Linked DNA regions of Homo sapiens: regions 1, 2 and 4 are each reported to be linked to region 3. The links are microRNA targets in miRTarBase. Many come from high-throughput screens and were not tested one by one. Region 3 holds a microRNA gene; each other region holds the end of a gene's coding sequence.
Evidence for each region. Region 3 holds the annotated microRNA hsa-miR-302d-3p (UAAGUGCUUCCAUGUUUGAGUGU, at 2,239-2,261, shown strand). A microRNA usually pairs through its seed, bases 2 to 8, with sites in the 3' UTR of a target mRNA and lowers its output. Matches are read on the target gene's strand: a 7mer-m8 pairs with bases 2 to 8, a 7mer-A1 pairs with bases 2 to 7 and ends in A, and an 8mer does both.

Region 1: the mRNA of MAP1B is a reported target of hsa-miR-302d-3p. Seed matches in the 3' UTR shown: 7mer-A1 at 5,418-5,424 and 7mer-m8 at 2,322-2,328.
Region 2: miRTarBase lists MTMR9 as a target of hsa-miR-302d-3p. Seed matches in the 3' UTR shown: 7mer-m8 at 4,325-4,331.
Region 4: the mRNA of DRAXIN is a reported target of hsa-miR-302d-3p. Seed matches in the 3' UTR shown: 7mer-m8 at 2,013-2,019, 7mer-m8 at 2,763-2,769 and 7mer-m8 at 3,405-3,411.

What each region holds. Positions count from the first base shown.
Region 1 is chr5:72,204,400-72,211,638 of GRCh38, reverse strand. MAP1B (microtubule associated protein 1B) reads right to left here. Exons shown (of 7, transcript NM_005909.5): 7 at 2,074-6,555. The coding sequence ends at 6,400. Among named protein-coding and RNA genes, the nearest start is that of MIR4803, 39 kb to the right of the region's middle.
Region 2 is chr8:11,322,397-11,329,396 of GRCh38, forward strand. MTMR9 (myotubularin related protein 9) reads left to right here. Exons shown (of 10, transcript NM_015458.4): 10 at 229-5,750. The coding sequence ends at 392. MTMR9-AS1 (MTMR9 antisense RNA 1) reads right to left here and starts at 3,032. Exons shown (of 2, transcript NR_189628.1): 1 at 2,920-3,032.
Region 3 is chr4:112,643,267-112,650,266 of GRCh38, reverse strand. It overlaps MIR302D (microRNA 302d), which reads left to right and starts at 2,196; the gene lies at 2,196-2,263. It overlaps LARP7 (La ribonucleoprotein 7, transcriptional regulator), which reads right to left. Exons shown (of 13, transcript NM_016648.4): 2 at 5,396-5,599; 3 at 3,816-3,916; 4 at 3,596-3,679; 5 at 3,312-3,476; 6 at 3,140-3,233; 7 at 2,718-3,068; 8 at 2,433-2,577; 9 at 581-732. The coding sequence starts at 5,597. MIR302CHG (miR-302/367 cluster host gene) reads left to right here and starts at 216. Exons shown (of 3, transcript NR_146092.1): 1 at 216-275; 2 at 1,668-1,754; 3 at 3,299-3,547. MIR367 (microRNA 367) reads left to right here and starts at 2,326; the gene lies at 2,326-2,393. It also overlaps MIR302A, MIR302C and MIR302B. RefSeq lists an enhancer at 674-1,396 and a silencer at 6,461-6,562.
Region 4 is chr1:11,718,331-11,725,572 of GRCh38, forward strand. DRAXIN (dorsal inhibitory axon guidance protein) reads left to right here. Exons shown (of 7, transcript NM_198545.4): 7 at 1,254-7,242. The coding sequence ends at 1,366. Among named protein-coding and RNA genes, the nearest start is that of AGTRAP, 14 kb to the right of the region's middle. RefSeq lists an enhancer at 1,414-1,483.

The DNA of each region.
Region 1 (7,239 bases), not on the chromosome of region 3:
GAGCTGTGTCTGTTGGTGTACGGCGAGATCTCCCTGTGAATCAAGCAGACCTCAGAAGCCCTGCTCCACCATCTGTGAAAACATTGCCAGTAACCCCTGGAGAAGTATCCAGAAGAACTGCTCATATTAAACGAACTAGGTGTGACCAAAACTGCATATATGGCTCCGGTGAATTTCCAAGGCATACAATACAAGATCAAAGAGGAAATAGTTCTGGAATTATGCAAGGGACCAAGAATTCATGAGTCAGGAGTGTGTTAAAAAAAGCATTGTAGGGATATAGAAAATCATCCAGAATGAGCGGTACAATTAAGAAGAGAGAGAAAATATGATCACAGGACCTCAACAGACCTTTGTTGATTTTCTCAGAAGATAGGAAAAAAGAAACTGAAGGAAAGCTGCCGCCAACTTTTCCCCCTCCATTGTGCCTAGATGGGGGGAGAAGGGGATGTAAACAGCAGGGCAGGGTTCAGGTAGGGTGACTAGCCCTCACTGGTTCCCAGGGACTGAGGGGTTTTCTGGGACACAGGACTTTCAGTGCTGAAATCAGGGCAGTCCTGAGCAAACCAAGATAGTTGGCCACCCTGGCTTCAGGCCAGAAGGAAGGCTTCCTGGAACTGAACAATTTGGCAGTGGAATAGAAAACAACTTATTTACTATTTAATTTGAGTCTGATAGATGAAATTAAAATCTGTAAGTGATGATTTCCCACCCTGAGTGCTCACATGCTTAACCCTTTAATTTCTGGAGGGATTTCAGAATCCCTCTTAGCAAGCAGTGATTTCTGATAGGACCATTCAATGTAGCCCCATGGTTTGGAGGGGAAATGTTAAGATCAAAAGGAGTGGATATGACACACAGAGGGATATCATAATAACTCAGGACAGGCTGCTGGGGTCTTTTGAGGCTAAAGGACCATCTCTGCAGACAGGCAGGGCCCAGTCTTGGAGGTCTCTATTAAGAACCTTATGGGCATGTTTTTTGTGGCCACATGGTGGGAAACTGAAGTGCCAGGGCCTCCCCCATTTACATGCTGCCATTGTGAGCAGTCTGTGCTCCTTAACATATGCTGATCCTGCTCTCTGCTGAGACCCTGTGTGAGCTCTTGTCTCTGCCTGGAATTTACTTTTGGTCCAACCAATGCACACACACACACACACACACACACACACACACACACACACACACTCCAGAGCTCAGCCGAGACATCATTTGCGGTGCTTTTCCTATGGTCACCTAAGCTCGCTCTTGAATTTTAGGAGCCCCCATCACGATGTGGTATCATTGCCTCTGCTGGTCTGTCTTCCCCCAATCAGTTAGGGCAGCAGTTAGGTTATATCTTGTAATATAACCTACTGCCAGGTACAGGGTAAATGTGTAATAATCATTTGAATGACAGGGAGGAAATCCTCCTCTTGTTAGGTATTCTTTGCTACATATATAATCACTTTTTCCCAACAACTGCTAGTTCCTGGGTGTGAGTCAAATCCACAACATATTATGTTAGATAGAGGATATTCTGTAACAGTGAGCAAGGAACTAAGAAAAAGATAGGTACTGAGCACAATTGCTGAATATGACAGGTTCTGGTCTGGTCTATCTTTTCTTTCTTTTTTTTTTTTTTTTTTTTTAGAGACAGAGTCTCTCTCTGTTGCCCAGGTTGGAGTGCAGTGGCACAATCATGGTTCACTACAGCCTTGAACTTCCGGGCTCAAATGATTCTCCCACCTTGGCCTCCCAAAGTACTGGGATCACAGGCATGTAGCACTGCACCCAGCTATCCTTTTTTTTTTCTTTTTTTTAAGCAATAATTTTAATTGTTCCTTCCCTTCACCTCCCAGTTTCTGTCCTTACACGCTCACATCCTCTAGAGCTTGGCTATAAAAGTTAACGAGGTAGCAGTTGCAAGCATTAGCAAGATGCTTTCGGCAGTTTGCCAAAAGCCAGGGAGCCCATCTTGAAAAGAACGTAGTCACCCCCTGCCGTCATGCCCTGACTGCCCAGCATTCTGCGTGAGTGGCAAAGCCCAACTCAGGAACACAAAGCAAAAGACAGCACAGCACACACATGAACTTTTGCCACTTTTGTATTTTATTGTGGAACTGAGTTTTTTTTTTTCCTTTACATCAAATATCCTCAATGGAAGAGGGGATATTGCACACAAATATCATAAAAGCACTACATATTACTTTCACTGGAAACTAATTTTCTACATTAGATATGACTGGATAGGATAGAAGTGATGCAGGATTATAAGACATAATACCATACACAGCTGCAGACTGACACAAACACCATTCAGAACAAGAGAGAGGAGTGTGAAGTGCTTCTCAGCTGGGCTCAAGACCACTTCTTTCCAGTGCTGGAAAGAGGGGCTGCATGCAGTGTAGGAAAAGCGTGTCTCTGAACTGCCACAGGGTGTTCTCGAAAGGGCAGCCCGGTCTTGATGCCACTTCTCCATGGCTCCTGTTTTGGGGAGCTCCAAACAAGTGCAGAGAAGCTGCCTATTTTTTCCCTTCCTTTTCAGTTTTTGATGCTGCCTTTAAAAATCAACTTCATGAAGTCACAGATTTTTTAACAGTAAATAGTTTTAATACCAGGTGAATAACCTAATTGCTTTCAAAGAAATGCTCATCCCTAGGCTGCTTTTGGTGTATTGTTCAGTTGGTTAAAAGATAAAAGCTTACAGTTCCTTTCAAATGGAAACAGGATCTTTTCTTCTAAATCTGAAGCACAAAAAAAAAAAGTTATTATCCTAACTCACAATATCATTACTGAGCAGGAACCTCCTGTGACAGGTGACTAAAGAGAGGCAAGAAAAGCAAATTCAGAATTGTAGAGCAGCTCCTAAGAGCTGAAATTTGGTAACAGAGGGAAAATGAAAGGTGGTAAGATTTCCATTAGCAAATGATTAAATCTTAATTAAATGAGTATTGGAAAGCTCCTAGACTGCATAAGCTATTGGAGACACTTAAAACATTCATATACACTGGGGAAACCATTCACTATGATATGTAACGTTAAGAAAAAAAATTTTTTTGAACTCCATGGAAAATGGTGTTTAAAGAGGGGAGGAGGGGAAGTTAGTCATTGTATCCAGTCCCACCACAAGACTGAGAAAGCATGCACAGGGCTCAGGGTTTTGAGAAAGGGGACAGAATTGGTTAAAATTGAAAATGGAGGATCATCGCTAACATTTAGTCTCTGTAGAATTTTGTTTAAGAATACTACCAAAAAGGTCATGATCATGAGTGCTATCTCGATAGAATCCCATCATTTAAACAGAGTGTAAATTCCTTCCACTCAAATATTCAATCTATACAATTGGATTAAGTAATCAGTATGAACAAAGCTCCTAGAAGTCTGTGTCGATCTTTAGCTCTCACCATGAATGTACATGGTACATTGTGATGGCTGTTACTAAACTAATCGTGTATTTATGGAACTAGCAAAATTAGGTTAGTCACACAGGCAGGAAAGGTGTCTGGAAGGACAGGAGCAACCTGTAATGCGAATATTGGTTTTCTTGGTATACTCAGGCTCTGTGGTCATATTGAGAACAACGGATGGAGAAAGGTACTGATAGATTTCATAGGAAAAAGAGCCAGCTGACTAGTGACAGTTTTTACATATTTTTCCCATTAAATCCCATAGCAAAAAAAAAAAAAAAAAAAAAGAGAGAGAGAGAGAGAAAGTGAGGAGGGTGGAGTGGTTATAACTGAAGACTGGCTATAATTCTCCTACAATGTTTATAGTTTTTAAAGCAAAATAATGTTCAGGTTAAATACATTTAATTGTGAAATTGGAAAATAACTTGCATCTTCTGTCAAAGAAAAATCAACCAGAGGTCTGGATTTGGCAAGAAGGCTAAAAATCTGGTTTTCTTCCCACGCATTATGTAGACCAATTCAACTTAAGAGCTAACCATTAAATAATTATCTTGAGTATCTTAGGTTGTGTTATAAAATAAATTTGAAGTAGATGAGTTTATACTCAATGAAATTCATTGGCGTCACAATGACTTTTCCATCATGTGTTAATTTCTTGTACCCTTAATATGTTATTTTCCAAGGACTTGAAAGAAATGGGGTAATAAATAAAAGCTGCATTTCTAGAGAAGCCTAACAAAAATAGAATATTAATTTTCTTTAAAAAATTAAACATTTGAAAAATGTAATTCACAGCATTAAGTAGACTGCATAGGTCCTCAGTGAAAGGACCCTGAAGAAGCATTTTTTTAAACCCTCATCATAGTTAGCAGTGCAAAACATAGACTTATCAGACAAAAATCAACTAAAATGTTAATTTTGAAATAAATAACTAACATAGAAAATAAAATGAGGTCATTGTTCTCTACTCCGTAGATCTTAGAGTCTGCAGGAAATGTAATGTGACAGAGCACAGCACAGTTGTCACGGAGAAGTTTGCCTCATCTGAACACTGGGTGCATTGATCTGCAACTTGAAACTTGATGTCAGTGTTAATCATGATCTGGCTTCCCAGGTTCACAGTTCAATGATGACAATGATGGAAATTTTCTCTAAACTCTACATGAACCGTAGGAGTTGAGAATTCATTTGTTTTCAATGTACTATTTCTTTTATTTTTTTTTTCCAGAAAAGAAAATCCCAAAGCAAATTTGTGCTAGGGTTCTTTGAACTTGGCTCTTTTACCTCATGGTTGAAGATCTTGAAAGAAGTATGTAGGATACCACTGGGTGATGTACTTGTCAAGGCCCTGAAAAGTAGCCTACCATGCCATTCTCCCCCACTCTCAAGTAGCACTTTTATGTTATGGGAATCAAGGGGTGGGAGGTATCATTATTCCTGGTAGTTATGGGTTTTTAATAAATATCATTACTGCAATATCAGACTTCAATCTTGCCAGAACTTCAAAAAACATTATTCAATTTTTGTCTTACGAAACACTTAAAAAAAAAGACTATCACTTGAGAATTTTCTTTGCAATTTCCTGTAAATGAAAACATTTGTTAAAAAGTTCATCTATGAAAAGTTCTCACATATCTTAAAAAAAAAATTCTTCTGTACACTTGTTCCCATAATTATGTTGAAATTAATGGAAAATTTAAAAAGCCAATGTAAGACAAAGGAAGGTAAATACTGTACACTTGCTGAGAACCTCTTCCACCATAAGATTCACTGTTTTCCCAGTTCTGATCATAGAAGCCATTTCAGTCTTGAACTTGCAGTAGTAAAGAAGCTGTGAAAGGCACAACTTGTTTGACTGAGAGGCCACAGGTGCACTGAAGTGGGATTCAACACGCATGACTCAGCATCAAACTGTTGGACCAATCAGATCAGCTTCTAGTACCCCCACACACGCTCACCCACGTGTTCCTTTAAGTATCTATAATCCTATATGGATGTTTTATAAACTTGCTGTCTCACATTAAAAAATAAGTGCATCAAGTATCTTTGTACATTCAAGTCACTTCCTAAGGCAAATTGTCTACCATATGTACTCCCAACTGCTTTGGTATTTGCTTCAGTTAATTGGGGTGGACTTGGGTGTTGCTGCATGCAGGTTAATCGACTCAGAGTGGACTAAGTGGGTGGACAAATGCTGGGAGCATGCCTTAGATCAATCTACTTGTGTGTTTAGAGTCTGAGAGTTCTGAATGGGGCCCAAACCACTTGCATGGCCAGTCTACACTCACTACATTATGTCAGTGTGCAGCCTTCAAACTGAAGGAGCTTAATTAAGATGTGAAAATATCACATGCCCTCATAACAAGTGTTGTTCTTTTTACTTTCTTCTAGCCAACTTGTTTTAGAAAATTAAGACTCTTTTTGATGACTCAGACTGACAAAAATGGAAAACTTTGCCTATGTAGACTAAAGAATGCCTACTGCCTGAGAAAATGCAGACCTAATTGTTGGTTTATTTTCTCCTCCTTACCCCACCCTGCTCTCTCTTTTTCTCTCTGGGTATCTCACCAGAACTCTCTGTCATTACATCTCCTTCTCTTGCATTCCTTTTCTTTCTCATTCTTTCTCTCTCTCTCTCCTGCGTTATCTTTGTGCTCTCACTCTCTCTCACTCTCTCCCGCGCTCTCTCTCTCTCTAAGACAAATGCCTCTACCTAGCAGAAGTCAGTTGGGTTGGCTAGTGCATGGTTTCCAAATGTTCAGCAGAGATGAACTGGGGTAGGTAATTTTGCAGGAATTTGAACCCTATTGTGGAAATACTGTTATTTCCCTTAGCAATCAGCAAAAACTGAGAAATTTAGTGACTTGCATCACCATGACACAGTATAGCATTTGGCAGGTAATTGTTCAGCGACTTAACTAGATGAATTGACTTTTTAGAAAAGGTGATTTCAAATTGAAGAATTTCTGGAAACAAAGTTCAGATCCTGTGGTGTGGCTGGCCTTGGTTTTTACAGTTCAATCTTGCATGCAGGGAAGGATTCATCTTGCATAACCACTGTGCTGCTGCTTGCTAAAACCATGATGTTGAGATCTTGCTGTTTCTCATGGGTCTCCTGGTACCATTCCCTCATCACTTCTGAGTCATGAGTTGGGATCAGTGTCACCTGCAGGGAGAGAAAAAAAAAATAGCTATTTAAGGGCAGAAACAGAAACCATATGAAAAAAATTGAATAGCAAGGTATTAGACCACTGGAAGAAGAAGGGAAATGAGAGAAAACTTTTCTATTTTCCTCAAGAAATGCAAAGGATTTTTCAATGTATATTTTCCAGGAACCAGAATAAAGCTGCAAAGAAAAGCTATTGTTTCTAAGGGAAACTGAAGGCTGGAACCAAAAAGCAATTAATCAGTTTCTCAGTTCTTTACTGTTAAGAGAAGTGCTTCCGTTAGGGTACAATTTTTTGTATTTCCTTTAACACAACTGGTAAGTTTTGCATAAAAGATATTGCATATTTAATCCAAGGATTTTATCGCGCACTTCAAAGCCCTCAAAAGCCCACTCATTGTGAGTAACTAACATTTTGTCCTGAGAACAAAGATCTGCACCTTTACTTTATGTGTGTGGTTGGGGATGGAGGTATGGGGTGGGTAAGTAATGTCCTGAATAGTATAAATTCCATCTAGCATTCAGTAGGGAGCCACTGGGTGCCTCTCATTAGATTTCATATGATTAAATAACAAGTAATTCTATATAATATGATACAAGCACAATTTACTAGGTAATTTTGTACAGAACCACAAATAAAACTTGATAAGCAAAGATCACAGCTGAATTAATAATAGCTGGTTC
Region 2 (7,000 bases), not on the chromosome of region 3:
GAGCATGTACATACAAGTAGTGACTTCTCAAATATTGTATTCAATTGCATCCTTTTCAGTACCTCAAGATTCCTGTATATTTTAGAGTATAATAAAATACAGATGTGAGTTGTGGCAACAAAAGAAAAAAGAATGTATAATACATAAATTACATCTTATCCACAAATGTAATTTTAATCCATTGTATATACCTTTCTTGCTTCTGTTTTCCATTCCTGGATTCAATAGGTATTTTCCTACGTTGGAATAGATCCTCTAAGTATTTGGATGAAGCATATGAAGAAATGGTTAACATCATTGAATATAATAAAGAATTACAAGCAAAAGTCAATATCCTTCGAAGGCAGTTGGCAGAACTGGAAACAGAGGACGGGATGCAGGAGAGTCCCTGAAAGGTCTCCTCGCACCCTTCGCAAGGACCTTCTTGGGCCTGTGTCCGCCGTTCTCTCCTTGTGCCCTTCAGTTCACTTTTACACGGTAGCCTTGAAGTGAAGGCTTTAGATGTGGGACCCCCCTAATGTAATGGATTTCTCAATACTGTATGAATAATGAAACTTACTATCATAAACCATGTTTCATGTGGCCTGTTAGGGCCTGTCACTTTGGGAGCCGGAAGGAGGTGCTAGTCATTTTATTTTTACGTGAAATAGATGACCTATTTAATGCCATTTGTGTTTCATGCCATTTTATCCAAAGCTTTTTCTCTGTGTCCACTCTCCAAACAGCATTCTAGAGCAGTCAAGGAGACAGCTAATCTCTCTAGGGACTATTTGGTGGTTTAAAAAAAGGGTCAGACTTTTAAACACTCTGACCATAGAAATGTTTTTCAAAATGGCAACAATGGATAAACCAAGGATTTTGTGTTTAACAATCCATTTCCAGTGTCTTCGCCACATAAAATAGCCATTTTCTTTAAAATAGTTTTGGACTAACGAAGCTGAAATCTATTCTCATTCTTGTTTGTCAAGAAAGGAAAATCTGTTATTCAAGGTAAATTATTTCTACAAGGGCAACAGGTATGGTCCTCCGATATTTACATTAAGAAGAGTTAAATTTATTTTAACGTAGACACTAAAAGTATGTGCAATATACAATTAAAGTAGGAATTTGTTACTGATTGAGAATTGTTACTGGTGAATTGGTTTTCAGGTTTTGAGCATACATATACAATGTGTTTCAAATGCTGCTTGTAAAATTAAACCATCATCTAGAATAGAGTTAATTTATTATAATCAAGCTACAAATAGGTTTTCTTAAACCAGAGATGCACTGCCCTTGTCTAAAGTTCTTATTGCACTGGTTTATATGTGTATGTGTGTTTTATTGTGTGTTTTTTTAATTTGTAAGTATTCTAAGAGTTTCCTAATACTAAGGTTAAAATTTTCATGTTGACCTGAGCCTTTTGCAAATTTGCTTTGGCTCTATTGATTTGTCCATTATGTGTTAGGCAAATATAACTTAAGTGGAGGGGGAAGTTTATGAATATAATATAGCTCTGTGTTTTAAACCTCAGAAACAGATTTGAGTGTTTCAGTATTATAGAAACAGTGATGACTATTCATGCTCTGCTAGTCTATGCCTGCAACTCCAAATGTTTGTGGTTCAGTATTTCCCACCTACATTTCTGTTTGGTGACATTGCTCATTTTAACAAATATGACCGAGTCTAGTTTTTCTTTAAAAGGATAGTTTATGAGTAATCTTTAAAACCATTTCCATACCATCTGTATATAACCATTTCGGTAGAGAACACACTACACTGAACCCTGCTTTAGAGCTGTGTGTTGAGCTAAAAATATAATTTTTTAAAAATTGACTAGCAAAATCTATGGCCACACTGAGAAGCCTTTGAAAATGGCAAATACTTTTCATCACCAATTGCCCAATTCATCTTTCTTCTGCTTCCTCAGCCTTGTAGCAAAGGCTACACAGCAGCCCACAGTCCACAGTCTTTTTGGGAAAATTGGCCTGCCACCTTCTTTAAGCTCAGTTTATTTTTGACTTACTTTCTTTGCTGTAGTTATGAACCTTGGGGCATTAAAATCCCATGGCAAGGAGCATAAGAGATGTTCTCGTAGCTCTGCGTTGTGTGAAATGTCCATCTTAGTTTTGTTAAAAAAAAAAAAAAAAAAAGGAAACAGCCTCACTTTTTTGTGCTCCCTCAGAATTGCTTGCTATGTCTGTTAATACAGCTGAGCTTTTTGTTTTCTTCTCTTTTTGTCTCAAGATTGTATATGAAGGAGGCTTTTCTTCTCAGCTAACAGGCATATAAGGAAAACCATCTAGAGAGTTTTCTTTAGAAGTGACTCCCATTAGCCTGGTGTGGTGGTGTGTGCCTATAGTCCCAGCCACTAGGAAAGCTGAGGCAGAAGGATCCCTTGAGCCTAGGAGGTTGAGGCTGCAGTGAGCTATGATCGCATCAGTCCACTCCAGCCTGAGCAACAGAGCGAGACCCTGTGTCTAAGTAAAGAAAAAGCCAGAAGTGACTCCCACTGCTTCTGTTGATCGGCCATAGGGCTTCCATGGGTGGAAACTTGTGAGGGAGTTTGTATTAGGTCTGGTCATGGAGGGATGATGTACCATCAAGGTAGACCCATCTTCCTGATGCACATTTGCTGTGCGAGCCAGAGTACAGTCATAACACGGTATTCGCATTTCGTTTTCTCTGTCTCACTGAGACAACAATCTATACTGTTTTGGCAAGTTTGCATTTTAGTATTAATTTATAATTAGGGATTGTTCAAACTTCAGATCTGTTTACAGGTTGTAAAAATAAACTTCGGTATCAGTGCATCTACAGAAGTGTTATTTGGTAATCCAAATATTAGAGTTTTCCCAAATCCAAAAACGGTCAGAAATAAGTCCATTATCAATATAATTTGAAGAAGATTTTTAGTAGTACTGTGAAGTTCGTGCTTACCTGGATGAGAAGAATAAATGACACGGATACACTCCTGAGAAGACACTCGTTAAACATTGCATCGGAGAGCTGCCTTTGATAAATGTGCTGTTAAACACTTGAATGAAGAGAATGGTGGCAGAATGAGTGAGCAAGCAGATTGCCCCAGAGGGGCCGGTAATAATCACGTGAGGGATAATCAGATTCCTGCGTATTCAGCATCTTCTCTATTCATGTGGAGTGAAAGCTGGTTTTTATACAGGAGATACGTAAAGTAGGCCCCACAAATAATATTTTTAAAATACAAAGGATCACCACAATCCTCTATTGAACATATAAGGATCCTCAGATTTAAATAAGTACTTTTTTTTTTTTTAATCAGAAGAACATTGTTGTTTGATTATATGTTTTTAAAAACCTGAAGCTTTTTTGGTGGCAGGACCTTTCAATAAATATTTATTTGGTCAAAATTTTTTATTTTGATTTTATTAAATGGGAAGAAAGCAAGCAGAAATAGTAAAATTCAGTAGGTTTAAAACAATCTATAAATGTATTTTATTTCCAAGAAAACTTAGGGTCTCAAAGCAAGATTTTAAAGTGATTTTTGAGAAGACTTGGGGGGGACAATAATAGACATTCATGTCAGATCCCATATGGGGGATTTTTAAACATTTCTTTGAACTTTGAGGCCTGATTTAGGGGTGGGATTTTATTGCTTTTTGTTTTAAAGGATGAAATTTTGTGGGGTTTTAGTCTTTGATTCAGTCAGTATTTGGTTTATGTTAAATAAAAAATCAGTATCATGGAAAAGATATGACCATAATTTAGTCTCCTCAAGTGAAAAACAGGAGTAATGTTTCGTTGCACTTTGAAAGATCTGCTTCAAGGCATAACTCGTGTAGTTGTCTGGTTTCAGGGATAGCTGTTTGAATTGTCATTCTAAAGTAGGTCATCAGGTTCACTTATTATCCGACCTTAATCTGGGATAAAGGTTTTGGTATTTGCCCACTTCTAGATAGAATGAATGAAAACAACACAAGCGTTTTATGAGCACTCTTTATCAGAAAGGTATTTCCTGGACCAGAAATGGGCAATAGTTACAATAGTTGATCCTCTGTTCTGGAAGCTTTGAAATTTATCAGAGAATGAAGTCATTCAGTACATCTGATAAAGTTTTGTTGTTGTTGTTGTTGTTGTTGTTTTAATTGGGCAACCCTCAGAACTGAAGAGGTTCAGAGAACTTTCCAGGTTTATACTATACCTCAAGACCACATAGATTAGCTACTGCTTATTCTTTCACATGGGCTAGGCCTGTTCTCCTCCTCCAGACCTAGTATTCTAAGTTATTACCACATAGTATTTTTATGTTACCCATCATCTTTAAAAACATTATAGGCTGGGCATGGTGGCTTACGCCTGTAATCCCAGCACTTTGGGAGGCCAAGGCGGGCGGATCATGAGGTCAGGAGATCGAGACCATCCTGGCTAACACGGTGAAAACCCATGTCTACTAAAAATACAAAAAATTAGCCAGGTGTGGTGGCGGGCGCCTGTAGTCCCAGCTACTCAGGAGGCTGAGGCAGGAGAATGGTGTGAACCCGGGAGGCAGAGCTTGCAGTGAGCCGAGATCGCACCACTGCACTCCAGCCTGGGCGAAAGGGCAAGACTCCATCTCAAAAAAAAAAAAAAAAAAAGACTCATTTATCCATTTACATTTATTCTCAGATGATAAAATATATACTGATACTATAACTTTCTTATGGTATCAGTTTTCTTTATTTTCTTGAATAAAATTACTTCTACCTTCATTTGGTCTTTATAATCCACTGTCCACAGCATCTTCCTTTAAACCAATAGTCCCAGAAGAGACCCTCTGAAATTCTAGGACTGGATATTAAAATGCCTGAACCTGTTATCTAAATCCTTTTTAAGAAACTTAATGTTCCAGCTCTTGAACTACACTGTGGAACAGTAATTTGTGCCCAATTTAGTGGAAGATAATGAGGCTCACTGTAAACACTACATTGTCCTGCAAAGTAATTCTGATGAGAGTTTACTGACTTCTAGAGCCATTCTCTTTAACCGTCTGCAGGTCTAAGGATTAACTATATTTGTGATTTGTAATAAAACTGAGTTGTACAACACTGCCTGTGTTTGTCTGGCCAAGACATTTGCTTCACTTTTAAAATGCACGTTATCTTTGGAGAGGTGAATTATTCTACAAAATGCACCCTAAATCTCATTGTTTAAAACCTTACTGATCTAATACCATCTACACAAAAAAATGTTGTAGTTGCAGAACTTAGTTTATAAAAACAAAGAATGTGTATTTCTTCAATAGCCGGGTATTTGGATTGTTCTCTTGATAATATTTGAATGTGACTCTTGGATTTAAGTGCACTATTATTCATGGCTTATACAATAAAATTGCACTGTATGGCAAATATGTCTATAATGTATGCTTTGCTGAAACCTCAAGAGTGCTGTAAGGTACAGGTTTCCATATTGTGAACCTGTGTACGCACACACACATATACATACAGTCTTAGGGAAAAAAAAAAGCAGAACTTTTGTAAGTCTGTGTAACATTTTAATATTGTTTGTAATATTCACTAGGTGATAATTTCCCCTGTACCCTATAACTGTAATCATTCACCTTGGGTTGGCCGGTTTGTCAAGCTTGGTTTACTGAATCAAGAAAGAGTCTTGTCGAATGTGGTACTGTTCTTAGTGTGTAATATTTGCGTATGGTGTTCCTCTGCCTCAGAGGACAGTTGCACAGATGGCTAGTGTTAAATTTCTATAGACGATGGTAATAAAATCTGAATATATTTAAGTGCTAATAAATTAAATCTGTGGGCTTATTTGAATTTTTTTTTCAAATATTGGTGAAGGTTTGGATGGTGTTTCAATTAAATCTATATATTTTTTACCTTACATTTTGAAAAAATTGAGATCTGCAAAAAGGCTGCAAAATAGTACACTGATCTCCCTAGATTGTTCCTATATTGAATGATTGGTAAAATTTTCCATATTTGCTTTAATACCACGTGTGTGTGTGTGTGTGTGTGTGTGTGTTTGTTACACTGTTATTTTGCTGAAACATCCGAGTTAGCTGCAGACATTGTGACCCTGTCTTCTAAATACTTCACAGGAATCTCCCAAGAATTAGGAATATGTATTCTACATATTATTGATTTAGTATGTATTAATATAAACACATGACTCATTGAGGGTAAAAGGAAAGCTCTTTCTTAGAGTAGAATGCCAGCTATTAAATGTAGAAAGAAAATGGAATTAAAAAGCCACTATTTGGCATATTATTACAGTAATCATTGACTTAGGCAATGCCTAACAGTGAATGGCAAAACTAGCAGGTGAAAATTTGTGAAGAACAGAATATAATCTCCAAATAGCCTTCCACAAAATAGTTACTAGTTACAAAGGAGAAAATACTAACTTTATAGTGAAAGGAACTGGTAGATATCACCTTATTTCAGGAAAAGTTAACATCATTAGTAATGGGACATATCAACATCATGTGCCTTCTGATATGATCCATCCAGAAACAGCACCACTGTTGGAGGGAAAAAGCAGTCTTAGGAGTTTTATAGTTTAAAATCTTACATTTAGATCTTAATCCATTCTGTATTAATTTTTGTATACCGTGTAAGGTAAGGGCCCAATTTCATTATTTGCATATGGATATTCAGTTTTTCCCAACACTTTGTTGAAGAGACTGTCCTTTTCCCATTGTGTGGTCTTGGTATCTTTGTTGAAGATTATTTGACCATATGCATATTCATTTCTGTGCACTCTATTGTGTTCCATTGGTGTATATGTCTGTGTTAATCACTGGAAGGCTGAGGCAGGAGGATCACATAGGGCCAGGAGTTCGAGACCAGCATGGGAAACATAACAAGATCCTGTCTTTACAAAAAATAAAAAAATTAGCCAGGCATGATGGTGCTCATCTGCAGTCCTTGCTACTCAGAAGCTGGAGTGGGAAGATCACTTGAGCCCAGGAGTTCCCTCTCCCTCTCTTTCCATGGTCTCCCTCTGATGCCGAGCCAAAGCTGGACTGTACTGCTGCCATCTCGGC
Region 3 (7,000 bases):
TTTATTATTCTACATGCAAATTGTTACTGCTAGAAGAGCATTCGTAAAGCCTTTAAATTTGCCCCTTCTCCCTGAACAAAGGAACAGTAAATTTTTACTCAATAAAGTTAAAAAAAAGTTAAAGGATACTGTGTTTTAAATACATTATTATTCAAACGTGAACATTTATTTTTACAAGAAATGAGAATTTAAAATGTATCCTAATTTTGAATTCATAGGAATTCTGCTTTAACTTGTTCCTGCTTGTGGTGCATACTACAGAATGAAATTAACAGGTGAGAAACTACAATCTTCATTCCTACAAACTTGCTCAGTCTGCAAACTCTGCACTCATGTGCTTGATGAAAACTGTAGAGAAAACTCAGGTTATTTAAAAAATTGTTTTAAATGAGCCTTTTAAATATTCTTATATCAAGAGTAAGTAACACATCTGGATAACTTAACAAATCAAGAATTGTTCTAATAATGAAATAGAATAATCAAGTTTTTTAAAATTAAAATTTATCTTATAACAACTCAGAGATAGCATTTACATATATAAGTACATTATAATGTTGTCAAAACTATCAGTGATCTTTACTTTTTTCATTTTTCATTCCAGTGTTTTGAGGTACTCCACTGTCTGTTTCCATTTCTGACTCTGATTTTATTTGGGATATTGTTTTTTTTAAAGAAGCCATGCTAGCTTTTTGTAGCGCTAAATACTCTTTTTTCAAATCCATCCATTCGCTCCTACAAGGAAAGAAATGGTGATAACAGATGACTAAATATAAAAAGTAAATAGGGAAATATCTAAATATATACATTCACAATGACTTGGAGCAACTCCTCCACCAACTTTCCTGTTTCTTTAAACACATATTCAAAATATTTCCTAGGTTCTAAAGACATTTAGCAAAATAAGCTAAGGGAGTTCCTCTTCCCCCAATATTCAGATTAAATGTTTTAAGATTGCCAATTAAATTTTTGAGTGTCTGAAGTATTTTAATTTATAAAAGTAAAATTTTAGCATTAATTCCTTAACTAGTAACATTTACTAAATCAGTCATCTCTGTGGGAAAAGGGCGAGATTAAAGATTTGTTAAACTGCTTCCAATTTGAGAGATAACATTCCTTAGTATTTACTTGAATCAAAAAGAATTTCTAAGTAGAACAAAACACCCCGTGGAAGCAATCTATTTATTTACATACATTTAACATGTAGATGCTTCTTCAAACAGAGTTCCTCCAGATAGAAACACAATGCCTTTCTCGGCTCAGTGGGAGCACTCATTGTTACCCTAATCTATGCCATCAAACAAGCAGATAGGAGATTTTCTTTTTCTTTTTCTTTTTTTTTTTTAAGAGGAAGATATCTTGTGGTAATGGTTTTAGCTGTTAACATTGACATCTGTATACTTCAAAAAAAAAAAAAAGGATCCAGACCCACCCAGGATCATACATTCCCTGAGAGCTGATACATTAAAATAACAAAAGGCCCTTGTAATGATTCTCTGAGATAAAAAGGCAAAAGGAATTCAAGAGTTAAGAATAGTATAAATAGAAGTGGCTGAAGTCCCTGCCTTTTACCCTTCTGGAGGAGAACACGAATCTTTGGGAACTAGTTCAGGAAGGTAAAAAAATTTTTTTCTTCTAAAGTTATGCCATTTTGTTTTCTTTCTCCTCAGCTCTAAATACTCTGAAGTCCAAAGAAGTTGTATGTTGGGTGGGCTCCCTTCAACTTTAACATGGAAGTGCTTTCTGTGACTTTAAAAGTAAGTGCTTCCATGTTTTAGTAGGAGTGAATCCAATTTACTTCTCCAAAATAGAACACGCTAACCTCATTTGAAGGGATCCCCTTTGCTTTAACATGGGGGTACCTGCTGTGTGAAACAAAAGTAAGTGCTTCCATGTTTCAGTGGAGGTGTCTCCAAGCCAGCACACCTTTTGTTACAAAATTTTTTTGTTATTGTGTTTTAAGGTTACTAAGCTTGTTACAGGTTAAAGGATTCTAACTTTTTCCAAGACTGGGCTCCCCACCACTTAAACGTGGATGTACTTGCTTTGAAACTAAAGAAGTAAGTGCTTCCATGTTTTGGTGATGGTAAGTCTTCCTTTTACATTTTTATTATTTTTTTAGAAAATAACTTTATTGTATTGACCGCAGCTCATATATTTAAGCTTTATTTTGTATTTTTACATCTGTTAAGGGGCCCCCTCTACTTTAACATGGAGGCACTTGCTGTGACATGACAAAAATAAGTGCTTCCATGTTTGAGTGTGGTGGTTCCTACCTAATCAGCAATTGCGTTAACGCCCACACTGTGTGCAGTTCTTGGCTACAGGCCATTACTGTTGCTAATATGCAACTCTGTTGAATATAAATTGGAATTGCACTTTAGCAATGGTGATGGATTGTTAAGCCAATGACAGAATTTAAACCACAGACTTACTTTGATAGCACTCTTAATGGTATAACTTCTTCTCCCATTTTATGTCTCTCTTTATGTTTTTTCTTATGTTTCCTTTTTGTTTTCAAGAGAGAGCTATCTTTTAGATCTCCAGTATCCTTTTCCTCTTCAGTAGAGATTTCTATATCTTGAAATAAATAAAAAAGCTCTCCGTTAAGACATGGGGCTGTGAAATGGGTGAAACAGAAGCCAATTAAAACCTAATTAATTAAAAACTAATTAATTAAAATTAATTAGTTTTATCTAATTAAAACCTTGTAGTTTTACCTCTATTTTCCTTGGAAGCTTCTGATGCTTCCTTAATGATGTCTTTCTGAATAATTTTCTTTACTTTTGATCGGGGAGCTAGGGATTCTGCATCTTCAGAGCTGCTTCTCTTCCTCTTCCCTGTTCTGACTTCAGGTAAGCTAGATGCTTCAACTCTGTCCCGTTTTTTCTTTTTCTTTGAGCACTGCTTTTGGGGTTCAGTGGACTCAATGTCAGAGCCCTCAGATGTGGGTCTGGATCTTTTCATTTTACTGATGCTGGTGTTGCTTGTGTCCATGTTTTCTTCTTTGGCTTGGATATTGTCTTCCTTTTTCATTCGGCCTTTCTTCTTCTTTTTCTTTTTCTTCTCTTCTGTAAAAGTGCCATCATTATTAGTTCATCTTACTTCAACTACACCTATTTAAATATTGAAAAATACTCACCCACAACTCTTAAGGCTGGAATGGGCTTATTTTTCACTGTTTTAGGAAATATGCCAGGTTTTCTTGGTGCTTCTTCTGGTGGGTTGTTAAGAAACTGAAATGATTGCAAAAGTTACTATTTTAATACTTGTTTTCTTTTCTTTCTTTTTTTTTTTTTAGGATCTGGACTTACCTCAATTGCTTTTGCTGCTTGTTCTTTTGTTTCAAATTCCACAAACGCAAATCCCTTTGGATCTCCAGTAGACTTATAATGTGGTATACTTATATAAACAACATTGCCACATTTCCCAAATACTCTTTCAATCCAGCTGTGATTAACATTTTTGGGAAGTAACTCCTATTATAAATTAAAAGCAATATTAGAGTTTTTCACAATCAGAATGTCAATAAATTTTTAACTTAATTATATTGTTTCTGTGCCAGTTTCTGACTGGGGACCCGGGTTCTTAAGCTTACCACATACACTGTGCGTTCATCCTCATCCTTTGGTCTTTCCCCCAGAGGTTTTTTCCTCCGGATTCTGGTGCCTTCCAAATCAAGCTTTAAAATAGTATATTACATTAATAAAACTAATATTATTTATAATTGTAAGCTATAATCATATAATAATCATTACGTTAACATTCTTTATAATTATAAACTATAAATATAAACAGTAGTTATTCTTGATTCTTACCTCTACAACAGCTGAACTTCTCAATGCTCTGGCAATTAACTTCCCATCAGTAGTCAATTTTTTCATTTTGTTAAAAGACACAAGTAGTGATATATCAACATCTAAAGAAAATGAAAAAGTTAATATGTTAGTGTATCAGCAGGATTAATTCAATTTGGTACAATTTAACCTGCCCCTCAGGCCCTCAGGCTCGGTGGCTCATGCCTGTAATCCTAGTACTTTGGGAGGCCAAGGCGGGTGGATGGGGGAGTTCAAGACCAGCCTGGCCAACATAGTGAAACCCCATCTCTACTAAAAATACAAAGAATTAGCTGGGTGTAGTGGTGCACGCCTGTAATCCCAGCTACTCGAGAGTGAGGTAGGAGAATCGCTTGAACCCAGGAGGCAGAGGTTGCAGTGAGCTGAGATCACTCCAGCCTGGGAGAAAGAGACTCAAACAAAACAAACAAAAAAAAACTGTATGAGGGTCTAAATGGCATTGCATATTTGGCGACCTAAAATGACACATTTTAGTGTATGTAACTGCAGATTAAGATTTGAACACAAATTATTAGCAATACCCAGACATTCAAAGAGGACATCTGGATCCCATCCTATTAGAAACAAGCACAAGGTTGGCTATTTGAAATTTAGCAACTGGGGATGGTGGCTCAATGCTTCTTATCTCAGCAATTCAGGGGTGAAGGTAAATCTCTTGAGCTCAGGAGCTCAAGACCAGCCTGGGCAACATGGTGGGACCCCATATCTCTTAAAAATGCCAGAAAAAAAAGCCGGCCTGGTGATGCTTGCCTGTGTTCTCAGCTACTGGGGAGGCTGATGGAGGATCGCTTGGGTGGGGCTGAGGGGGTGGAGGTGGGGGCAGAAGTTGGAGTGAGCAGACATGGAGCCAGTGCATTCCTGCCTAGGGAAAAAAGATAGACCTTGCCTCAAAAAAATGAAACAAAAAATAACATTGAGCTAGGTGAAATGCCTTCTTGTATGAACTAAAGTATAGCACTCTCGAGTTACACATGATGAATGGTTATTGAAGCAATTAAATCCCAAAATACTTAAAAGCTTTGATTTGAAATTGCTTATTTAATATAGCCTAAACTGTTACCAACAGTCTTTATTTAGAAGATTGTCATTCACTAAATAAAAATTAGAACAGATTACACGGAACACACTTACAGAAACGAATATACACATTATAGAATATACTATTTTAGGCTGGGTGTAGTGGCTCACGCCTGTAATCCCAGCATTTTGGGAGGCTGAGGTGGGCAGATCACAAGGTCAGGAGTTCGAGACCAGCCTGGCCAACACAGTAAAATCCCATCTCTACTGAAAATACAAAAATTAGCCGGGCATGGTGGTGCTTGCCTGTAGTCCCACCTACTCGGGAGGCTGAGGCAGGAGAATCACTTGAACCCAGGAGGCAGAGGTTGCAATGAGCTGAGATCATGCCACTGCACTCCAGCCTGGGCAACAGAGCAAGACTCCAACTCAAAAAAAAAAAAAAAAAAAGAATATATTATTTTATAAGTAAATTTAAAGGCAACCATATCTAAAAATTGGTTCCTTTACTGAAGCAAACTTACATCCATCTCTAGATTTTTCTATCTGTTCTCGAAGAAATCTATCCTTGTGAAGATTTGCATCCCCAAACCAGAAGTCCACTTGCTTAGCAATATCTGCAAGCACCTGTTTAACTCGTGACCGTTTCTTTTTTTCAACTTCTTTTTTCTTTTCAGTGCTTTCTTCTTCCATTACCTTTTCCTGATTTCCACTTTCAGTTTCCATTCCTGTGAATTACAAGAAAAAGATGTAAATATTTAAATCACCACAATAGCTAATATAGTTAAATATTTAGATTAGCCTTTAACTGTCTGAGAGAATAATGGACTCACATTTGGCCATCAGAAGACAAACAGAAAGAACATTCATTTTTATATTTAATAAATTAAATTTAAAAATAATTTACCTTCTATGTTAGGGATCATAGCTTTAGTTTCTTTGTACCTTTTAAAACACAGGGCCAGATTATCCTAGAATAATATAAAAAATTACACCTTTATCTCACTAAGCTGCACTTTTAAGTCAGTAAGTGAAAAGTGTAAGATTAAGGGACGTGGACACTCTCCATCGCAACACCCCCTCCTCTCCATCGCAACACCCCCCCGCCCCCGCCCCACCCCAGAGAAGTTGTATTCGCTTTTTTTTTTTTTCTTGGAGACAGTTTCCCTTTTGTTGTGCAGGCTGGAGTGCAGTGGCGTGAACTTGGCTGACTGCAACCTCCATCTCCCGGGTTCAAGCAATTCTCCTGCCTCAGTCTCCCAAGTAGCTGGGACTACAGGCACATGCCATCATGCCCGGCTAATTTTTGTATTTGTAGTAGGAGACGGGGTTTCACCATGTTTGCCAGGTTTGTCTTGAATTGCTGTCCTGGTGATCTGCCCGCCTCCGCCTCCCAAAGTGCTAGGATTACAGACATGAGCCGCCGCGCCTGGCAATTTTGATTTTTAAAATGTTAATTTCTGCTTTCTAGGGGCAGAATTCAACTGGTAAGCTGTAGAAATCAGCCTCTTCTCTCTTCTCTTTCTTCTTCTCTTCTCTTTTCTTTGAGGCAGTCTTCCTCTGTTGCCCAGGCTGGAGTGCAGTGGCATGATCTCAGCTTACTGCAAGCTCTGCCTCCTGGGTTCAAGCGATTCTCCCTGCCTCAGCCTCCCAAGTAGCTGGGAATACAGGCACCACTGCCAATCACACCCGGCTAATTTTTGTATTTTTAGTAGAGACAGAGTTTCACCATGTTGGCCAGGCTGGTCTCGAACTCCTGACCTCAGGTGATTCGCCAGCCTCAGCCTCCCAAAGTGCTGGGATTATAGGTGTGAGCCACCGCGCCCAGCCATAAATCAGCCTTTTCAAGTGGCCTTCTCATCCCAGTGTTTATTTCTTGGGCAGCAATTTCTAACCCCCTCCTTCCTCAAGTTACTTTCAGTATCTCTTCCCCTTTGCTTTGTCAGCTCCAGCCATACAGTCCTTGCACTTCTTGAAGCTCACCCAGCAATGTCTAACGGGGTCTTTTAAACCTGTTCTCTTTGAAACACATATCCCCAGAGATAACACAGCTTGCTCTCCTACTTCAAGTGTTTATTTAAATGTCACCTCAGTGCGGTCCCCTCCCACAATCATATTTAATAATGCAA
Region 4 (7,242 bases), not on the chromosome of region 3:
AAAAGCAATGGCTCTCCATAGGATGTTTTACAGGGAAGGGCAGAATTTGAGCCACTTAAAAAAAAATTTAATAACCTTTTTCCTTTCCAATTTTCAAGATTATAGACTTTTTAATTGAATTTATCTGTGTATTTTATTTTTTAATTTTTTTGAGACAGAGTCTCACTCTGTTACCCAGGCTGAACTACAGTGGTGCAACCAAGGCGCACTGCAGCCTGGAACTCCTGGGCTCAAAGGATCCTCTCATGTTAGCCCCTCCTTCCTATAGTTGGGACTACAGGTGTATGCCACAATGCCTGGCTAATTTTTACATTTTTTGTAGAGATAGGGTCTCCCTATGTTGCTTAGGCTGGTCTGGAACTACTGGGCTCAAGCGATCCTCCCACCTCAGCCTCTCAAAGTGCTGGGATTACGGGTGTGAGCCACCGTACCCTGTGGACTTTATTTTTAGAGCAGTTTTCTAGAAAAATTTCACAGAATGTGGTTCTCATATACCTGCTTTGCCCCTGCATGCAGTTTCTCCTATTAATAACATCTTGCAATCATGTGGTAGATTTGTTTGTTTGTTTGTTTGTTTGTTTGTTTTCTGAGAGGGAGTCTAGCTCTGTCGCCCCAGCTGGAGTGCAGTGGCATGATCTTGGCTCACTGCAAGCTCCACCTCCCGGGTTCATGTGATTCTCCTGCCTCAGCCTCCCAAGTAACGGGGATTACAGGCACCCACCACCATGCCCGGGTAGTTTTTGTATTTTTTTAAGTAGAGACGGGGTTTCACCATGTTGGCCAGGCTGGTCTCAAACTCCTGACCTCAAGTGATCCACCTGCCTCGGCCTTACAAAGCGCTGGGATTATAGGCGTGAGCCACCGTGCCCGGCCTCTCTTGGTACATTTGTTGCTTGACAAACCAATAGTGATGTATTATTATTACTAACTGAAGTCAACGTAAGTTATAGTTCACTGTGCGGTGCATTCTGTGGGTTTTGACAAATGCATGCCATGTCCCACCATTACGTGTCACACAGAATATGTTCACCGCCCCGACCGCCCTGAGTCTTCTCTGTTCTCCTTCCGTGTTCATTCCTCCCCTCTTCCGGGTTCGTGTCTTTTAAGCTCATTGGGGCTGCCGTGAGGAAGCTGGGTTGTAGGGCAGAATAATGAAGGCAGGAGGGAGCTGGCTGGCCCCGAGCGTGCAGGGGAAGGAAGGGGAGGGCACGGGCCCTTCGCGCCTCTGACCCCCCTTGCCTCCACTCGCCCAGGGCTGCGCTGCTATGCCAAATTCCACCGGAACCGCAGGGTTACACGGAGGAAAGGGCGCTGTGTGGAGCCCGAGACGGCCAACGGCGACCAGGGATCCTTCATCAACGTCTAGCGGCCCCGCGGGACTGGGGACTGAGCCCAGGAGGTTTGCACAAGCCGGGCGATTTGTTTGTAACTAGCAGTGGGAGATCAAGTTGGGGAACAGATGGCTGAGGCTGCAGACTCAGGCCCAGGACACTCAACCCCAGGAGGGGAGCCGCTCGGCGAATGAGCTGGGTGGGTGCCCAGGAGCCGGCCCGCAGCACCTGCACACACGAAGTCCGGACCCACGCAGCCTCCATCCCGCGTGTCTTGCTCTCCGCGATGGCAATGCCGAGAGTGCCCTCTACTGTCCGACTCCAGCACTGCAACAGCTTCAAGTTCAAAACCAAGAGGCGTTTTTGAGAGTGGAAAAGAAATTTAAACTTCCCGAAAGAAGGTCCACCATCAGGAGATGAATATGGAACATCTCCTATGTACCAGGCACTGTGCTAAGTGCTGGAATACATTATCTCATTGAATTATCACAACGACCTTTTCAAGTAGGCATTATCACCATGCGACAGGTTGAGGACCGTGAGGCACGCTGGAGTTATTTGACTCGACTTGCCCAGGGTCCCAGGTCAGTGCTCCTCAAACCTGAACATGCTAAGAGTCACCTGGAGGTCCAGTTAAAAATGTACATCTGGCCGGGCGCGGCGGCTCACGCTTGTAATCCCAGCACTTTGGGAGGCCAAGGCGGGTGGCTCACCTGAGGTCAGGAGTTCGAGACCAGCCTGGCCAACATGGGGAAACCCCGTCTCTATTAAAAATACAAAAATTAGGCCAGGCGCGGTGGTGCACACCTGTAATCCCAGCTACTCGGAGGCTGAGGCACCAGAATCGCTTGAACTTGGGAGGCAGAGGTTGCAGTGAGCAGAGATCGTGCCACTGCACTCCAGCCTGGGGGACAAGAGTGAAACTCCATCTCAAAAAAAAAAAAAAAAAAAAGCACATCTGACTCAGTGGGCTCTGTGCTCTAACAAGCTCCCAGGGAACGCGAGGCTGCTGGCCCAGGGACCCACTGAGAGGTCCTGGGAAGTACATGGCAGAGCAAGGACATGAACCTGGGCCAAGGCTGTCCAGCTCCAAGGCCCACGTTCTTGCTGCTCCACAGCCAAGAATTTCTTCCAGATTCTCTAAGGCTTTTGGCAAGAGAGGCTCACACCCTGGTATTCCCTTCCTCTGTGGCTGGAATAACTTGACTGTTCTCTGCCTTCCCTGGATAAAGGTGTATCATGTTTAAAAACAAAACAAAATACAACTTAAGCACATACTTGCTTGCAGGAATAAGTTGGGCAGGTTGATCCCTGTGGTCTAGTAGCTGATATCCTGGGATAAGAAGTGTTTGGGGAAAAGAATCATGTTGGCCTTTATGTCCCTGTGGTCCTGATCATCCAGTCCTGGACAGGCACTTTACAGTTTTCTGGAGCACTTCCCCCCCAGGGGTTCTGATGCAAGCATGGAATCCAAAAAAACCCCACACATATTGCCCATGTTTACCCACTTTGCATACTGTTTAGTGATTTCCAGGACCACAAAACCATCCCTGGAACCCCACCCCACATTTTTGCAGCAGAGCCCACTGGGAAGTTGAGGCTCACCTGAAATTGAGGTGCTATCTGAAGCTAACTGCCCCTAACAGGCCAGACTCACAATGCCCACCCAGGACATCTGTCCCAGCAGATCTGGCTTCAGGGGTCACTTCAGGAGAACCATTTAAATCCCCCCACTTGGCATCTCACTCCTGGCCAACCCTCTGTTCCAGGGCGAACCAGGTTGCAAATGACAAAAGACTTTCCTGGCCAAATTCCTCACTGGCCTGGATCACGCCCATAAGATGCCAGAGATGTTTACTGCGTTGGAAAAATCAGTCGGGGTCAGGGGTCAGGCACCAAGGAAAGCAGGCAGATCTAGAAGAAATTAAATATGCTTGTTCTCTCCCTATCCAAGTTTGATGGGCATGGGAACCTTGTGGGGAGGGAGCAGGGAGGGCAGGGGAACTGGGAGATCAAAGCAGGCTAGCTGAAAGGCAGATATGGCTAGACACAATGGCTCATGCCTGTAATCCCAGCACTTTGGGAGGCTGAGGTGGGCGGACCACCTCAGGTCAGGAGTTTGAGACCAGCCTGGCCAACATGGCAAAACCCGGTCTCTACCAAATATACAAAAATTAAGGCTGGGCACGAGGGCTCATGTCTGACATCCCAGCACTCTGGGAGGCCGAGGTAGGCAGATCACTTGAAGTAAGGCGTTCGAGAACAGCCTGACCAACATGGTGAAACCCCATCTCTACTAAAAATACAAAAATTAGCCAGGCATGGTGGCAGGTGCCTGTAATCCCAGCTACTCAGGAGGCTCAGGCGGGAGAATCACTTGAACCCAGGAGGCGGAGGTTGCGGTGAGCCAAGATCACGCCATTGCACTCCAGCCTGGGCGACAGAGTGAGACTCCAAAAATATAAAACACTTAAAAATGTAAAAAGGCAGATCTGCCAGCAGCTTCGTACTTGAGACCAGACAACCCACACATGCTGTGTGTGCCTCACATTAAGTGGTGACTCGGGACTGTGCTGGCTCTGTGGGGCTAGAACCCTAAGGAGTACCGCCGGAAGAAAGCCCAGCATTACTATGGCTGGGGGACAGCTGTTAGATGGTCCTAGGACATCAGCCATGGAGAACACAGAGGGTCAGGACAAAGCTAAAATGCCCATAGAACTGCCACTGGTTGCCAGGGTAGTTCCATGGTTGGAAATTCAAGGCCCGTCTCTTTGCCCTAGCTATCTCTATTTGACATTTCCAAAGAGGGATGGGTGGATGGAACCTCTTAACTCCAGAGCTGGGAATCCCAAAGCCCTCTCAAGTGTCTAACCAACCTCTCTGCCAGGAAGTTCTTCCTTAGGTCTATCTTAAATTTATTTTGCTCATACAGAAGCCAGTTTCCTCTAATCCAGGGTTTAGCAAACTTTTACTGTGAGGAGCCAAATAAACATTTTAGGATTTGCAAGCCATCTGATCTCCACCAGCTACTCAGCTCTGCCGTAGCTCGAAGCAGCCACAGAGAGTGTGTAAATGAATTCATGGCTATGCTCCAGGAAAACTATTTCTGGACACACATGTGAATTCTGTATACTTTTCACATGTCACAAAATATTATTCTCTCTTTCCTTTTTTTTTTTTTTGGAGATGGAGTTTTGCTCTGCTGCCCAGGCTGGAATGCAGTGGCTCAGTCTCAGCTCACTGCAACCTCTTCATCCCAGGTTCAAGCAATTCTCCTGCCTCAGCCTCCCAAGTAGCTGTGACTACAGGCATGTGCCACCACACCTGGTTAATTTTTGTATTTTTAGTAGAGATAAGGTTTTACCATGTTGGCCAGGCTGGTCTCAAACTTCTGACCTCAGGTGATCCGCCCGCCTCAGCCTCCCAAAATGCTGGGATTACAGGTGTGAGCCACCGCACCTGGCCATAAAATATTATTAGTTTAATTTTCTAAAACCATTTAAAAGTGCAAAAACTGCTCTTTGCTTGCCAACTGCGCAAAACCAGGCAGTGGGGCAGATTTGGCCTGAGGGTCACGGTTTGCCAACCCCTGCTCAAGCCTGCTCACTCTCAACGCTGGCTGCACGTTGCAATAATCCAGGAACATTCACAGGCCTGGGGCCCACCCACAAAGCTTCTGTTTTGTTTGGTCTGGGCTTCATAGTTTTTCTCCCAGGTAACTTCAGGTGCAGCTGGGGCGGAGAGTCTCTGCTCTCCCCTTCCATCTGTAGCAGTGTGGCTGGTGTTAAATCCACCTATTCCACCTCTCACAGCTTTGGCAACCTTAGGAAAGTTTCTTAAGGTCTCTGTGCCTTGATTTTTTCATCTGTAAAATGGGAATAATAACTCTCCCTTCATAGGGTTGTTGTGAGTAGTGAATGCATACTTCTTTTTTTTTTTTTTTCTTTTGAGACAGAGTTTCACTCTTGTTGCCCAGGCTGGAGTGCAGTGGCACGATCTCGGCTCACTGCGACCTCTGCCTCCTGGGTACAAGTGATTCTCCCGCCTCAGCCTCTCGCGTACCTGGGATTATAGGCAAGCATCACCACGCCCGGTTACTGTTTGTATTTTTAGTAGAGATGGGGTTTCACCATGTTGGCCAGGCTGGTCTCAAACTCCTGACCTCAGGTGATCCCCCCGTCTCAGCCTCCCAAAGTGCTGGGATTACAGGCATGAGCCAGCATGCCTGGCCTGTGAACGCAGAATTCTTATAAGGTGTTTAGAACAGTGCCTAGCACCTAATAAACCTCCAGTGTTAGCTAATTTGTTATTCTAGGAGAATTTTAGATGTCGGTTCTTTGACAATGACCCATCACATACTCTGAGATCATTTCTAAGTCACCATTCAAGCTCCTTCCCCAAAGTGTGTTCCATAGAACACTGGGACCATGAGATGCTCTATTAGAAAGGGTCAGGGTACGGTTCCATGGTCAGAGAGGTTTGGAAAACTGTTCTGGCCTCAGCCCTTGGCAGCATGTGCAGATTCCAGGCACCGAGGCAGGGCTGGAGGAGTAAGTGGCTTTGCAATAAAATGGGTGCTGGAGTCTAAAATGATACCCTGGGTGGAGTGGGGGAGCTGAGCAGGAGGCCAGGTGGCAACCAGTAGCTGCTGGGCCCGTGGCCTGAACCCTCCTGCACTCCTCCAGCTGGAGTCTCACCGCGGATCCCAGGAATACCTGCTGTTCCCACAGGGCTGCCTTTCCGTAGTTTGTCTGGAGACACCAAGAGTGGTTTCCATGCCTGCTGGGAATAGGCTGAGCATGCAATGACATGAGGGCCAAGGCTTGTGGGAAAATGACAGCTTCACAGCCCCTTGAGGAGTGACCAAGCCACAAAGTAAATCCTAAAGCCACAACCCCTTCTACCACTGAGCTGCTGGAGGTGGGTCCTTATTTCAAGCCATATTCAACCCACCCAACAAAACCTAACATTGAGGTGGTGGGCACACGGCCCCTGCCGTGGGGCTCACTCTGCAGCTGGAGAGACAGCATACCTGAAACCTGCAAGGAACCGGTTTATAAAACAACAGAACAGCCAGGAAAATGGTGCTAGGAGAGACAGTGGAGAGGCCAGAGAAGCAAACCACTGTGGCTCCTCACTGGGGGTTTCACGGGGTTGGACTGAGCCCTGTCACCTCTGTGATAGTCTTCACTCTGACAGGCAATGGTGACTGTGTGTGTTTCCTGGGGAGGAGGTTAGCAGGGACGGTTGCCTTTCCTGGGAAGGGCAGTTTGCAGAACCAGGGGTTTATATTGCAGGGAGTGTATTTTCTGAATTCTAAGTCAGAACAAGCAGTCTGATACAGGATCCATGGCTGGGTCACTTCTGGGTGCAAGAGGCTTTCTAGACCTTAGACACTCAAGATTACGGTCCCGGGCCAGTAACAGCACCTGGGAGCTTGGTAGAAATGCAGAATCTTAGCCTAGGCAACATAGGGAGACCTCATCTCTGCAAAAAATAACAAAATTAGCCGGGCATGGTGGTGCACACCTGTAGTCCCAGCTATTCTCCAGGCTGAGGTGGGAGGATCGCTTGAGCCCAAGAGGTTGAGGCTGCAGTGAGCCATGATCGCACCACTGCACTCCAGCTTAGGCAATACAGCGAGACCTTGTCTCAAAAAAAGACAAAAAAAACAAAAAGAAATGTAGATTCTTGGGCCCCACCACCCCACGCCTACTGAGCCAGAATCTCTGGGGGTGGGGCCCAGCCATTTGGCTTTTCACAAGTTCTCCAGGTCATTCTTGGGCACGATCAAATTTGAGAATCACAGGTCTAGGATACGACGGGGAAAACAGAAATGTGGGGTGGTCAGGGACATTCGGATAATTCGGGCTATTTGTATTCAGGTGTGAGCTGGCAAATCCGAGACCTG